Linked DNA regions of Homo sapiens. The protein of the gene in region 2 interacts with the protein of the main gene of each other region in a pairwise test. Each region holds a gene or a part of one and is shown on either strand. Other genes may lie near its edges.

Region 1 (7,024 bases), on a different chromosome or scaffold from region 2:
TGGCTCTAAATAGGATAAAGAGGCCGGGCGCGGTGGCTCACGCCTGTAGTCCCAGCACTTTGGGAGGCCGAGGCAGGCAGATCACAAGGTCAGGAGGTTGAGACCATCCTGGCTAACACAGTGAAACCCTGTCTCTACTAAAAATACAAAAAATTAGCTGGATGTGGTGGCGGGCGCCTGTAGTCCCAGCTACTCTGGAGGCTGAGGCAGGAGAATGGCGTGAACCCGGGAGGCAGAGTTTGCAGTGAGCCAAGATTGCGCCACTGCACTCCAGCCTGGGCAACAGAGCAAGACTCTGTCTCCAAAAAAAAAAACCAAAACAAAAAAAAAAAAGGATAAAGATTTTGCTTTTTTATCAACTGTTTTTTCTGCTTTGCTTTTAGTTATGTAGGAAAGTTTAACCTAACCAAGATTAAACTGTAAAACCGATTATTTTATATCACCGTTGCTAAGATTTAATACATCTTTTTCCTGTCGTTTAACACAGGACATTGAGTTTTAGCAAACTGAAGGTTGTCCAGAGTTTGAAACAAACCCTGGACATATAGTGGGTGAGTTCTCTGAGGAAGCTTTCATTGATGGAAGAACAGTATCGCTCCTTGGTCCTTGTAGATTCATGTAGCATCTGAGACAATTATTTTTGAATTTAAAACTTCTAGGTTCATCCTTAAAATAACTGTGTAAATAATATATTTAACTTAGAGTTATGGCAAGCAAGGTAGACGCTTATGAGAAGAGTCTATGGGTTTATTATTACATTGCTATTTACCTAGTTTAATAAAAAGTGAATGACTGTGTAGTAACATATTAGAGTTTTGGCAAGCAAGATAGACTCTTACGAGAAGAGTCTATGGCATTATTATTACCTTGCTATTTACCTAGTTTAATAAAAAGTGAATGACTTAGATCATTTAGTTTTCTGTTTCTTTTTTTTTTTTTTGAGATGGAATCTCACTCTGTCGCCAGGCTGGAGTGCAGTGGCACGATCTCAGCTCACTGCAACCTCTGCCTCTCGGGTTCAAACAGTTCTCCTGCCTCAGCTTCCCAAGTAGCTGCCATGCCCGGCTAATTTTTTTTTTTTTTCTTCGTATTTAGTAGAGACGGAGTTTCACAATGTTGCCCAGGCTGGTCCCAAACTCCTGAGCTCAGGCAGTCCACTTGCCTTGGCCTCCCAAACTGCTAGGATTACAGGCTTGAGCCATGGCACCTGGCCTAGTTGTCTGTTTTCATACTCATAAACTTTCTTTTCCCACTCTCCCCCTATACTTCTCTTGTGTCTGGCTGTCATTTAATCTTTTTTTTTTTTTTTTTTTTTTTTTGAGATGGAGTCTCTCTTTGTTGCCCAGGCTGGAGTGCGGTGGCACCATCTCAGCTTACTGCAGTCTCCGCCTCAAGTGATTCTCCTGCCTCAGCCTCCTGTGTAGCTGGGACTACAGTTGTGCACCACCACACCCAGCTAATTTTTTTTGGTATTTTTAGTAGAGACCGGGTTTCACCATCTTGGCTAGGCTGGTCTTGAACTCCTGACCTCAAGTGATTCTGGCCTCCTAAAGTGCTGGGATTAGAGGTGTGAGCTACTGCGCCCAGCCTGTCATTTAATCTTCATGGAAACTACCATAGCTTTTCTGATTCTTCGTTCTAGTCTGGCTGGTTGATAATATATTTAATGGAATCATTAAAAGTTTAGGGTTGAAAATTTGTGGTAAATTTGTGAATTCTTTAAATTGAGCATTTTGAAGTATTTTCTCCCCACAGGGATTCTGAAAACATATTAGATTATACACACACAGAAGCAAAGACAGCTGAACCTTGAGGCCATTTGAAAATCCTGGCACTGTGCCAGAAAGAGAGCTGGGCTGCTGCTCTTGCAAAGAAACAGAACACCTTTCCTCTTGCTTTTGTTGACTGTAATGATGTTTCATGGGCTTATATTGTTTGACTCTGACTGAGGAACCTGAGAGAGTCCTTATAACCTTATTGGCTGGAAACTGTCATTCCTACTCTTACGCAGATTATTTAGGTTTGTATTCTTTCCCCTCCCATTTGCTTCCTCTCCTTTGCTCCTACAGAGGGGAGGGGGCTTCTAATTCATTTTTGGGGAGGGAACAGTATGGGAGAAACACTGTCAGTCTCTGCTATGGGAGGAAAAAGAGGGACTTGAATATTGAGGAGTTTCAGTGAAGGAACTGACATGCTTGGCTCAGTACTTTCTGGGACCTTCTCACATTTGTCTTCCTGTAGTGAAGATGGAGTTCTGGTCTCCACTCAACTAGCTGGTAAGCTGCTCTTGGTCAGCTGTATATTATCCAGACTTGGCTACAGAGCTAAGGTTCTGTTCTCCAGTTGATGCTATCAGTAAAAACAAACATTTTAATTTCCATTTGTCTTCTTGCTTTTTTTTTCTTTTTGAGACAGGGTCTTGCTCTGTCACCTAGGCTGGAGTGCAGTGGTGCAATCTCTGCTTACCGCAACCTCCGTCTCCCAGGTTCAAGCAGTTCTCCTGCCTCACCCTTCTGAGTAGCTAGGATTACAGGCATCCACCACCATACCTGGCTAATTTTTGTATTTTTAGTAGAGACGGGGTTTCACCATGTTGACCAGGCTGGTCTGGAACTCCTGACCTCAGATGATCCTCCTGCCTCGGCCTCCCAAAGTGCTGGGATCACAGGCGTGAGCCACCGTGTCCGGCCTCTGTCTTATTTCTTTTTTTTTTTTCTTGAGACGGAGTCTTGCTCTGTTGCCCAGGCTGGAGTGCAGTGGTGCAATCTCGGCTCACTGCAAGCTCTGCCTCCCAGGTTCACGCCATTCTCCTGCCTCAGCCTCCTGAGTAGCTGGGACTACAAGTGCCTGCTACCACGTCCAGCTAATTTTTTGTATTTTTAGTAGAGACGGGGTTTCACCATGTTAGCCAGGATGGTCTCGATCTCCTGACCTTGTGATCTGCCTGCCTCGGCCTCCCAAAGTGCTGGGATTACATGAGCCACCGTGCCCGGCCTGTCTTATTTCTTAATTAGCTCCAAATTGGATGTGGAAAAAAGGTACTGTTACTGGCTCCCTAAAATCTTGGTGCACTGTCTTTGAAGAAAAGAGGAGAACTGGCATTGGATACCAGAATGACATGAGGATATCTAGGTGTCTGAGGCAGTCCAGGCAGGTTTTAGAATTTGATTTCTTATTATGGAATGTGTAAGTTGTTGTTGTTGTTGTTGTTTGAGACAGACTCTTGCTGTGTCGCCCAGGCTGGAGTGCAGTGGCGTGATCTCAGCTCACTGCAGCCTCCGCCTCCCATTTCAAGTGATTCTTGTGCCTCAACCTCCCCAGTGGCTGGGACTACAGGCACTTGCCACCACGCCTGACTAATTTTTTGTATTTCAGTAGAGATGGCGTTTCACCACGTTGCCCACGCTGGTCTCGAACTCCTGAGCTCAAGCAATCCGCCCACTTCAGCCTCCCAAAGTGCTAGGATTACAGGCGTGAGCCACCGCGCCGGGCTGGTGTTAAGTTTTTAAATACGATACCTGGTTTTTAACTGATATAAGCCAGGCAGACCATGGTCCTATGGTGGCTCTACTGAGAGCAGCTTTGGCTTAAGAGAGTGGGTAGGAAAGGGATTAGACTATCAAGAACAAGTCATTTATTTTTAGTAATCACTGATGACTAGAAAATAAACTCCAAACACAGGTGAATTCTCTGAGCTTGGAGTTTTGTGCTAGGCATAGGCAGACAGTTGCCTCATTCTCTTATTCTCTATGTTGTTTTAAACTACATTCATGGTCAAGAGAGGAAATTTAGCTATCTTCACGATTATCGTTCTTTTTTAAAAATATAATTTCAACTTTTAGATTTGGGGGTACACGTACAGACTTGTTACATGGGTATATTGAGTGACGCTAAAGTTTGGGGTACAGTTGGTCCCGCCAGCAGGTAGTGAACACAGTACCCAACAGTTAGTTTTTCACCCCTTGTTCCTTTCCTCCCTCCTTCCCCCTCCCCCCAGATTATTGTTCTTTCTAAACTGTTAGAAAAAGGGTTATACTTCTTACATACCACTTGGATGCATGTGGTATAACCCATGGAGTTTTGCTGCCAACTAAGGTCCCCAAGTAGGTCATGAAAGCCCAGATCATGGCTTGCATTTTGAAAGTTCCAGACTTTTCAGAGATCTGGCTTTGGGCTTTATTCACGGAGGAGTAACTGTAGGGTTTTTTTCCCCCAATGAACAAATAATGGATGGTGACCCTTCCATAAAGAAGGCACCACTTTGGAATTGAGGCCAGTGAATTGACTGCAAATTCAGAAGCCAAAAGGGTATGCCTAGTATACTGTCAGAAGCCAGAGGTGGGGGTATGCCTAGTATACAACAACTCAGTGAATTGACTGCAAATGCAGAAGCCAAAGGCATATGCCTAGTATACAACAACTCAGTGAACTGACTGCAAATTCGGAAGCCCAAGGGCTACGCCTAGTATGCTGTCTTTCCAGGAATTGAGTTTTCTCAAAATCTAGGAGGAAATGGAGTGGTTTGTAGAAGATGCTTCAATCTTACTATCAGTATGGAAGCAATGAATGAATAAAAGAAAAATAAAGGAATACAGGCTAATTTAACTGGAGGAAGATCTTAAAGTATAGGGAAGACAGAAATGGAACAGGAAAGAACATGAACTTAGGTCTCTAAAGCTTTTAAAAGGAGGGTGCAGAAGAGGGATCCTTGTTGGTTATGACCCTACCGGATATGGTAACTGGGTTCCAAGGAAATATAACAGAGGCAGAGTGTGAAGAGCTCAGAAAATAGATTGGCATATGTTCCCCCCATCCCTTGTCCCCCTCTCCACTGTAAGAGCTCAGATTCAATAAACCCTTGGGGAAATTGTCTTTTAAATAGTTCTCCAATTGCTTTTATAGGTTCTGTCAAGTCATAACAGAAAATGTGGGCCAAGCGTGGTAGCTCATGCCTGTAATCCCAGTGATTTGGGAGGCTGAAGCAGAAGGATCCCTTGAGCCCTGGAGTTTGAGATCAGCCTGGGCAGCATATCAAGACCCCGTCTCTAAAAAAATAAAAATAAATGGCCAGGTGTGGTGGCTCACGCCTGTAATCCCAACACTTTGGGAGGCTGAGGCAGGCAGATCACCTGAGGTCAGGAGTTCGAGACCAGCCTGGCCAACATGGTGAAACCCCGTCTCTACTAAAAATACAAAAAATTACCAGGGTGTGATGGCAGGCACTTGTAATCCCAGCTACTTGGGAGGCTGAGGCACAAGAATCACTTGAACTCAAGAGGCAGAGGTTGCAGTGAGCCAAGATCATACCACCGCACTCCAGCCTGGGTAACAAGAGTGAAACTCTGTCTAAAAAATAAAAATAAAAATAAAAATAAATAAAAACTAGAAAATGTGTACAGATTTAAGAGGGGAAAGATCAGTATAGGACACTTCAAGCACTGTTAGGTGAGTGTCAAGGTGACAGTTGTAGGTAGAGATGCCTTTGCCCTGAGGAGGCATGCAGAATAAATTTCTGAAATTTATGAGAAAGTACAGGAAGATGAAACATACTAAAGGAGAGCCAGGTAGATGGAGTCCAGGCTTGGAAGGATTTATCTTCTGGATGGATTCTTCATCCTGGAGGTGAAGAAGGACAAAAACACTTTGAACAATGGCTGCTTTTGATAGACCCAGAAATCACTGACTTTCTCCTCATATTGGGAGATTTCACACAAGAAAACGTGCAGAGGAGTTAAGGTGGGAAATAAAAGTTGGGGCCCAAAGGCAAAGAGCAAATAAAATCAAGGAGAGCACCAAAGTCCAGCAAAAGTTACAGGCCAATCTGTGGTAAAAAGGAAAGGGATTCATTGAAGAATCAGATTGTTAAAAACTCAGGTGACCCTTTCTTTTTTTTTTTGAGATGGAGTCTTGCTCGGTCACCCAGGCTGGAGTGCAGTGGTACAGTGGCGTGATATCTGCTCACTGCAACCTCCACCTCCCAGGTTCAAACGATTCTCCTGCCTCAGCCTCTCGAGTAGCTTGGACCACAGGCGTGCACCACCATGCCCGGCTAATTTTTGTATTTTTAGTAGAGACGGGGTTTTACCATGTTGGCCAGGCTGGTCTCAAACTCCTGTCCTCAGGTGACCTGCTGGCCTCGGCCTCCCAAACTGCTGGGATTATAGGCATGGACCACAACACTTGGCCAAAACTTAGCTGACCCTTTCTTAAAGGATTGGGTAAAACCAAAGTGGGATGCAAAATACTACATATCCCACAACAGAAAAACATGTAGACAGGTCTTGGGGAGTATGTTGCCGAGGCATTAGTTCCAGAACTCTAGGGCCACAGGCTTCCAAAGTAACCACAGCCCTTTCCACTCAGGAATTTGTGGAGGGTGATGTCCCAGCTGAAACAGTGTAGGCAGGAAGAAGACATCTTCCCTTTGACTGAGCAGGTCTTAAGCTTTTAACCTGGCCTGTATATCAGAATTACCCAGGGAGTTTTCAAAAAAATTCTGGTGCCCAGGCTGCACCACAGACCAGTGAAATCAGAACCTCTGGGCCTGGGACCCCAGGAATCAGTATTTTTAAAGACTTGCCTGGTGAGTCCAACATGCAGCCAAGGCTGAAAACCATTCTCTTAAGGGCAGTTTCACAACCCTAGGCAATTCCTTAGCAAGAAGTACTGACAGCAGCTACGAAGGTACAGGACTAAAACACCTGTTTCACTGAAGGGCAGCGGGGGTGGGTGTTACCTGGCACTTCAGTGCTAAAATGAATGTAAAGAAATTATGTTCATGGCCAGGCGTGGTGGCTCATACCTGTAATCCCAGCACTTTGGGAAGCCGAGGCGGGCGGATCATCTGAGGTCAGGAGTTCGAGACCAGCCTGACCAACATGGAGAAACCCTGCCTCTACTAAAAATACAAAATTAGCCGGGCATGGTGGCAGATGCCTGTAATCCCAGCTACTAGGAGGCTGAGGCAGCAGAATCGGTTGAACCTGGGAGGTAGAGGTTGCGGTGAGCCAAGATCGTGCCATCG
Region 2 (7,024 bases):
GTTAAGTGGTTTTAAATGTATTGCTGTTATCAACAGGGCTCCAGTGAGCATTCTTGTACATATATCTTTGCACACACATACAAGCATTTCCTCAGGATAAATTCCTGAAATGGAACAAGTGTCAAAGGATATAGACACTTCAAATTTTGATAGTTAAAATGTCAAATTGCCTTTAACCATATGTGAGTACTCTCATGAAATGATAAATTCAATATCTGATACCCTTAGGTACTAAGGAAAAGGACTTTCCTTAGTGGAGGTCCAGGAGAAAATCTTCGAGGCAGAGATTAACAAAATCAGTGAGATAGGAATGTGTATAGCTTGTTTATGGAATTAGAATGAGGATTTCCGTAAATTACCAATGAACCCCATAAGACTACACAGGATGGAAGCTTAATAGTGCATGGCTGTTTGATGTCATGTTGCTAAATTCCTGTCCGTTCCCAACTTGTACTGGAGTGACATAAACCATATGGGGCAATTGGAAGAGCTTTCCAAAACAGCTGAGCTTAAAGATCAAGCAAAAGGAGAAAGGATATTCCTGCAAAGGTTCTGATTCCATGCCCTTAAGTATCTCTGATGGTGTTAGGGGCCGATGGGCAGGTAGCCCGCAGGGGTAAATGATCAAGGTGTTGAAGGCGCTCCAGAGAGCAGGTGTTAAACATTTTCGGCCGGGCGAGGTGGCTCACGCCTGTAATCCGAGCACTTAGGGAGGCCAAGGCAGGCGGATCACAAGGTCAAGAGATCAAGACCATCCTGGCCAACATGGTGAAACCGTCTCTACTAAAAATACAAAAATTAGCTGGGCATGGTGGCAGGCACCTGTAGTCCCAGCTACTTGGGGAGCTGAGACAAGAATCGCTTGAACCCGGGAGTTGGAGGTTGCAGTGAGCTGCACTCCAGCCTGGCGACAGAGAGAGATTCCATCTTAAAAAAAAAAAAAAAAAAAAAAACCTTTTCAGGAGGGCCTGAGGCTATGGCAGGAGGAGCAGGAGAGGAAGGTGCAAGCCCTCTCGGAGATGGCATCTGAACAACTGAAGCGGTTTGATGAATGGAAGGAACTGAAGCAGCATAAAGAATTCCAGGACTTGCGGGAAGTAATGGAGAAGAGGTGAGTCTCCCTGAATTATGACTGGGAATGTTGATGTGTTCAACTGGAACTCTTTCCCAAGAGGAATTCCAAAGGGAAAGAGTTGAACAACTTCTGAGTCCTTAAATATCAAGGTAAAATAGGCAGAGAATTTTATAACCTGGAAAAAAGACCAAACTTGGAGAGACAACCAAAGGAACACAAAGAGGGAGGCTTTTAGGAGAGGTAAAACAATTTTACGGGCGTGGTGGAACACAGCTGTAGTCTCAATTACTAGAGAGGCTGAGGCAGGAGGATTGCTTGAGTCCAGGAGTTTGAGGCTGTGGTGAGCTATGCTCTGCAGCCTGGGCAACATAACGAGACCCCATCTCTAAGAAAAAGGGAAGGAAGGGAAGGGAGGGCAGGGAGAGGGAGAGAAAAGAAAGAAAGAAAAACAATTTCAGGAAGTATCCCTGACTATTCCTCCCTGCCATTTTTCATGCAGCTCCAGAGAAGCCTTGGGACACCAAGAGAAGCTAAAAGCTGAGCACCGTCACAGAGCAAAGGTCAGAGCCTGGCAGAATTGGTGTGGGTGTTTTGGTGTCTGTCTGTAACCTGCCTGGAGAGCCAGGTTTTGGCAGATGGCCACCATGGAGGATCTGGGCCGTATTATGCCTGTGTATGACTAACCTTGGGATGTCCTCTTCCTGCTCTGAGCCCATCTGTGAAAATATGTAGCCCACGTAGAATTTGAGGACTGTAGAAAGAAGAAGCCCAGGAACCCCTCAGAGAGAAGTCACTCAGCCCTTTTCTACAGATTCTCAACCTGAAGCTGCGGGAAGCAGAGCAGCAGCGCGTGAAGCAAGCAGAACAGGAGCGGCTTCGGAAGGAAGAAGGCCAGATCCGCCTGCGGGCCCTCTATGCTCTGCAGGAGGAGATGCTGCAGCTCAGCCAGCAGCTGGATGCCTCTGAGCAGCACAAAGCCCTGCTTAAGGTCGACCTGGCTGCCTTCCAGACCCGAGGCAACCAGCTGTGCAGCCTCATCTCAGGGATCATCCGGGCCTCTTCAGAGGTGAGGGGGGCTTCAGAGTGACTCTTTGCTGTCTTTGAAATGGAAGCCTTTAAAAGCAAAACTGTTTTCTGACTTAAAAAGTAATACCTGCTATCTGCTTATTGGGGGAAATACCAAACATTACTTGTTATCTCCATATCTCTTTACCTAGAAGTAACCACTGTTAACATTTTATTTTGTTTCTTTTATTTATTTCTTTATTTTTATACCTGCTTATTCTGGAGTCTTTTTTTTTTTTTTTTTTTTTTTTTGTGATGGGGTTCCCCTTTGTCACCCAGGCTGGAGTGCAGTAACACAGTCTCAGCTCATGCAACCTCTGCCTCCCGGGCTCAAGTGATCCTCCCACCTCAGTCTCCTGAGTAGCTGGGACTACAGGCGCATACCACCATGCCCTGCTAATTTTTGTATTTTTTTGTAGAGACAGGGTTTTGCCATGTTGCTCAGGCTGGTCTCTAACTCCTGGGCTGAAGTGATCCCCCTACTTCGGCCTCCCAAACTGCTGAGATTACAGGTGTGAGCCACGGTGCCAAACTTTTTTTGTTTCGTTTTGTTTTTAAATTAGCAATAGAGATCTCACTATGTTTCCCAGGCTGGTCTTGAACTCCTGGGCTGAAGTGATCCTCCCACCTTAGCCTCCCGAAGTATTGGGGTTACAGGCACGAGCCATTGTACCTGCCCTGTTTCTTTGCTTTGCTTTTTTTTTTTTTTTTTTTTTTTTTTTTTGAGACAGGGTCTCACACTCTTGCCCCGGCTGGAGTGCAGTGGTGTGATCATGGCTCACTTCAACCTCCGGCTTCCAGGTTCAAGCGATTCTCGGATTACTTGAGGCTAGGAGTTCGAGACCAGTAGGTTTCAGCCAACATGGTGAAACCCAGTCTCTACTAAAAATACAAAAATTAGCTGGGTGTGGTGACGCACACCTGTAATCCCAGCTACTTGGGAAGCTGAGGCACGAGCAGCACTTGAACCTGGGAGGCAAAGGTTGCAATGACCGAGATCTTGCCACTGCACTCCAACCTGGGCAATGGAGATTCTGTCTCAAAAAATAATTATTATTATAATAAAACAGTATTATTTTTGTCTAACATATTGTCACAAACTTTTTAAAAAATTACGCTGGCCCTTGTTGCTGAGAATACAGACCAATTTATACTTAGAAACTATGGATGTGACAGTAAGTTGGAATTATTAATACCTTTAAGAGAACAGGGAAAGAAGTATCAATTCGTTGAATGTGGATACTCCATTGGTGCAACAATTCCAATTGCAGGAAATTTATTGACTTGTATGAGGTATGATTTACCTAGGGAATGACCACTAAGCACCATCTCCGTCACTCTGACAGAGCAGCTATCCCACAGCAGAGAGTCAAGCTGAGGCTGAGCGAGCTCTGCGGGAAATGCGGGACCTCCTGATGAACTTGGGGCAGGAGATCACCAGAGCCTGCGAAGACAAGAGGAGGCAGGATGAAGAAGAGGCCCAGGTAAAGCTGCAAGAGGCACAGATGCAGCAGGGACCAGAGGCCCACAAAGAGCCCCCAGCTCCCAGCCAGGGCCCAGGAGGGAAACAGAATGAAGGTGGGTTTCAGTATGGATGTGGTCCTTTAACTCGTAAGTTTCAAATGTGAAGAGAAACAAGAGCATGTTTTGAATGTTGTGTTAAACTGTAGGACAGTTAACCAGAATTTTATGTAATGTATTTCATTCAGTTTTGGTTGATGTAGAGTCTGATTTACGATTCCAACACTTTGCGTGAGGACTTGAAATTCTGTATAACTCTAGCAGATACATTATTTCAATTATTGCTGCTGCTGAGTATTTTAAATAAATGCGCACAGATATGTGTTGGTGTAATACGTATAAGGGGTCAGGAGTTCGAGACCAGCCTGGCCAACATGCCGAAACTCCCATCTCTACCAAAAATAAAAAAATTAGCTGGGCATGGTGGCACGCACCTGTAGTCCCAGCTACTCGGGAGGCTAAGGCAGGAGAATTGCTTGACCCAGGAGCTGGAGGTTGCAGTGAGCTGAGGTGGTGCCACTGCACTCCAACCTGGTGACAGAGTGAGACTCCGTCTCAAAAAAAGAAAAAGAATCAGTGTACCATAGTGTTTGAGAGTGCTGACTCTGGAGCCAGATCAGTGGGAGTCTGGTTTTTGTTGTTGTTGTTGTTGTTGTTGTTTTTTGCGGGGAGGGGATGGAGATTTGCTCTTGTTGCCCAGGCTGGATTGCAGTGGCGCGATCTTGGCTCTCTGCAACCTCTGCCTCCCGGGTTCAAACAATTCTCCTGCCTCAGCCTCCCGAGTAGCTGGGATTACAGGTGCCTGCCACTGTGCCTGGCTAATTTTTGTATTTTTAGTAAAGATGGGATTTCACCACGTTGGCCAGGCTGGTCTCAAACTCCTGACCTCATGATCCACCCGCCTCGGCCTCCCAAAATGCTAGGATTACAGGTGTGAGCCACCGCACCCAGCCTGGGAGTCTAATTTTTCTTTTTTGGTGTGTTTTGTTTTTGTTTTTGTTTTTTTTGAGACAGAGTTTTGCTCTTGTTGCCCAGGCTGGAGTGCAATGGCACAATCTCAGCTCACTACAACCTCCGCCTCCCAGGTTCAAGCGATTCTCCTGCCTCAGCCTCCTGAGTAGCTGAGATTACAGGCATGCACCACCACACCTGGCTAATTTTTTTGTATTTTTAGTGGAGACGGGGTTTCTCCATGTTGGTCAGGCTGGTTTCGAACTCCCGACCTCAGGTGATCTGCCAGCATTGGCCTCCCAAAGTGCTGGGATTATAGGCATGAGCCACTGCGCCCAGCGTTTTTTGTTTTTTGTTTTTTTTTTGAGATAGGAGTCTCACTCTTGTTACCCAGGCTGGAGGAGTACAGTGGTATGATTATGGCTCACTATAGCCTCACCCTCCCAGGCTCAAGTGATCCTCCCCACTCAGCCTCCCAAGTAACTGGGACTACAGGCATGCGCCACCCTGCCTGGCTAATTTGTGTATTTTTTGTAGAGATGGGATTTCACCATGTTGTGCAAGCTGGTCTCAAGCTCCTGGGCCTGTCTTGGCCTCCTAGAGTACTGTAATTATAGGCGTGGGTCACCACACCCAGCCTTAGTTTTTCTACTTAGTAGTAATGTGACCATGGCAAATCACTTAACCTTTTTGTGCCTGTTTCCTTTTCTATAAAATGGAGATAATAATAGTATCTATTTCATAGTTATGGTGACAGTTAAAGCAGTCAGTACATACATAAAGTGATTATAACAGTGCCTGCCTCATATTACATGTTCAGTAAATACTAGCTATTACTAAAACCTCTCTTTTATTTCTCAGACCTCCAGGTGAAGGTACAAGACATTACAATGCAGTGGTACCAGCAGCTGCAGGATGCTTCCATGCAGTGTGTGTTGACCTTTGAGGGCCTGACCAACAGCAAGGACAGTCAGGTAGGGGAGAGGTATATGGCAGTAATTTTGTGGACTTGATGGTTCTCAGAGAATGATCACTTCGTGTCCCAAAGGAATGTAGCTGGCATGTCACTTTACCTGATTCTAAGTGACATCTACTCAGCTCTTCAGAACACTGCTTTCTCACTGTTCTCTTCTGGCAGGCCAAAAAGATAAAGATGGACCTCCAGAAGGCTGCTACCATCCCAGTGAGCCAAATCTCTACCATTGCAGGTTGGTCAGAGGGGTTGAGAACATGACCTTTCATTTCATTGTATTATCTTTCAGACTCCAAATCTATGTATCTGTAAGGTTCCTATAAAAGTATATTCAAACAAATGTTTACAGTTGGATCGGGTACATATAAGTGACATACATCTTGTTTCCCTGATATAATCATGGCTGGGCTCACGCCTGTAATCCCAGGACTTTGGGAGGCCGAGGTGGGCGGATCACGAGGTCAGGAGTTCAAGAGCAGCCTAACCAACATAGTGAAACCCTGTCTCTACTAAAAATACAAATACTAGCTGGGTGTGGTGGCTCTCACCTATAATGCCAGTTACTCAGGAGGCTGAGGCAGGACAATTGCTTGAACCCAGGAGGCGGAGATTGCAGTGAGCCGAGATCACACCACTTCACTCCAGCCTGGGTGACAGAGCGAGACTCTGTCTCAAAAACAAAAAAAGAAGACTCTTTTTTTTTTCTTTTTTTCTTTTTTTTTTTTTTGAGACAGAGTCTTGCTCTGTCGCCCAGGCTGGAGTGAAGTGGCGTGATCTCGGCTCACCGCAAGCTCCGCCTACCGGCTTCACGCTGTTCTATTCTCCTCCCTCAGCCTTCTGAGTAGCTGGGACTACAGGCGCCCACCACCATACCCGGCTAATTTTTTGTATTTTTAGTAGAGACGGGGTTTCACTGTGTTAGCCAGGATGTTCTTAATCTCCTGACCTGGTGATCCACCTGCCTCGGCCTCCCAAAGGGCTGGGATTACAGGCGTGAGCCACTGTGCCCAGCCCCCTTTTTTTTTTTTTTTGAGATGTAGTCTTGCTCTGTCACCCAGACTGGAGTGCAGTGGCGCAATCTCGGCTCACTGCAAGCTCTGCCTCCCGGGTTCACGCCATTCTCCTGCCTCAGCCTCCCAAGTAGCTGGGACTACAGCTGCCCGCCACCACGCCCAGCTAATTTTTTGTATTTTTAGTAGACACGGGGTTTCACCGTGTTAACCAGGATGGTCTCGACCTCCTGACCTTGTGATCCGCCCGCCTCAGCTTCCCAAAGCGCTGGGATTACAGGCGTGAGTCACTGCACCCGGCCTTTTTGACTCATTTTTAACAAGCTACCTTTTATGGCAAATTATTAGGATGGCTCTTAGCTTTGAAGTTGCAGTTTACTGCTGAAAACATCACTCAGGGAACCTAGGCTGTGACTTGCAGGCTTTGCT

Evidence for each region. Proteins that work in one complex are often made in the same cells at the same time.
Region 1: the proteins of GLE1 (region 2) and RNF34 interact in binary tests that used the Homo sapiens proteins (3 or more experiments, as listed by UniProt).

The regions. Positions count from the first base shown.
Region 1 is NC_000012.12:121,403,094-121,410,117, forward strand, and holds part of RNF34 (E3 ubiquitin-protein ligase RNF34), read left to right. Parts: intron 1-1,755; exon of another isoform or gene 1,756-2,020; intron 2,021-5,367; exon of another isoform or gene 5,368-5,382; coding exon of another isoform or gene 5,383-5,616; intron 5,617-7,024. Other genes in the region: KDM2B (lysine-specific demethylase 2B), read right to left, coding at 5,383-5,616. UniProt on the Homo sapiens protein: E3 ubiquitin-protein ligase that regulates several biological processes through the ubiquitin-mediated proteasomal degradation of various target proteins.
Region 2 is NC_000009.12:128,521,706-128,528,729, forward strand, and holds part of GLE1 (mRNA export factor GLE1), read left to right. Parts: intron 1-962; coding exon 963-1,111; intron 1,112-1,574; coding exon 1,575-1,635; intron 1,636-1,884; exon of another isoform or gene 1,885-1,886; coding exon 1,887-2,141; intron 2,142-3,486; coding exon 3,487-3,718; intron 3,719-5,473; coding exon 5,474-5,586; intron 5,587-5,750; coding exon 5,751-5,820; intron 5,821-6,905; exon of another isoform or gene 6,906-7,024. UniProt on the Homo sapiens protein: Required for the export of mRNAs containing poly(A) tails from the nucleus into the cytoplasm. May be involved in the terminal step of the mRNA transport through the nuclear pore complex (NPC).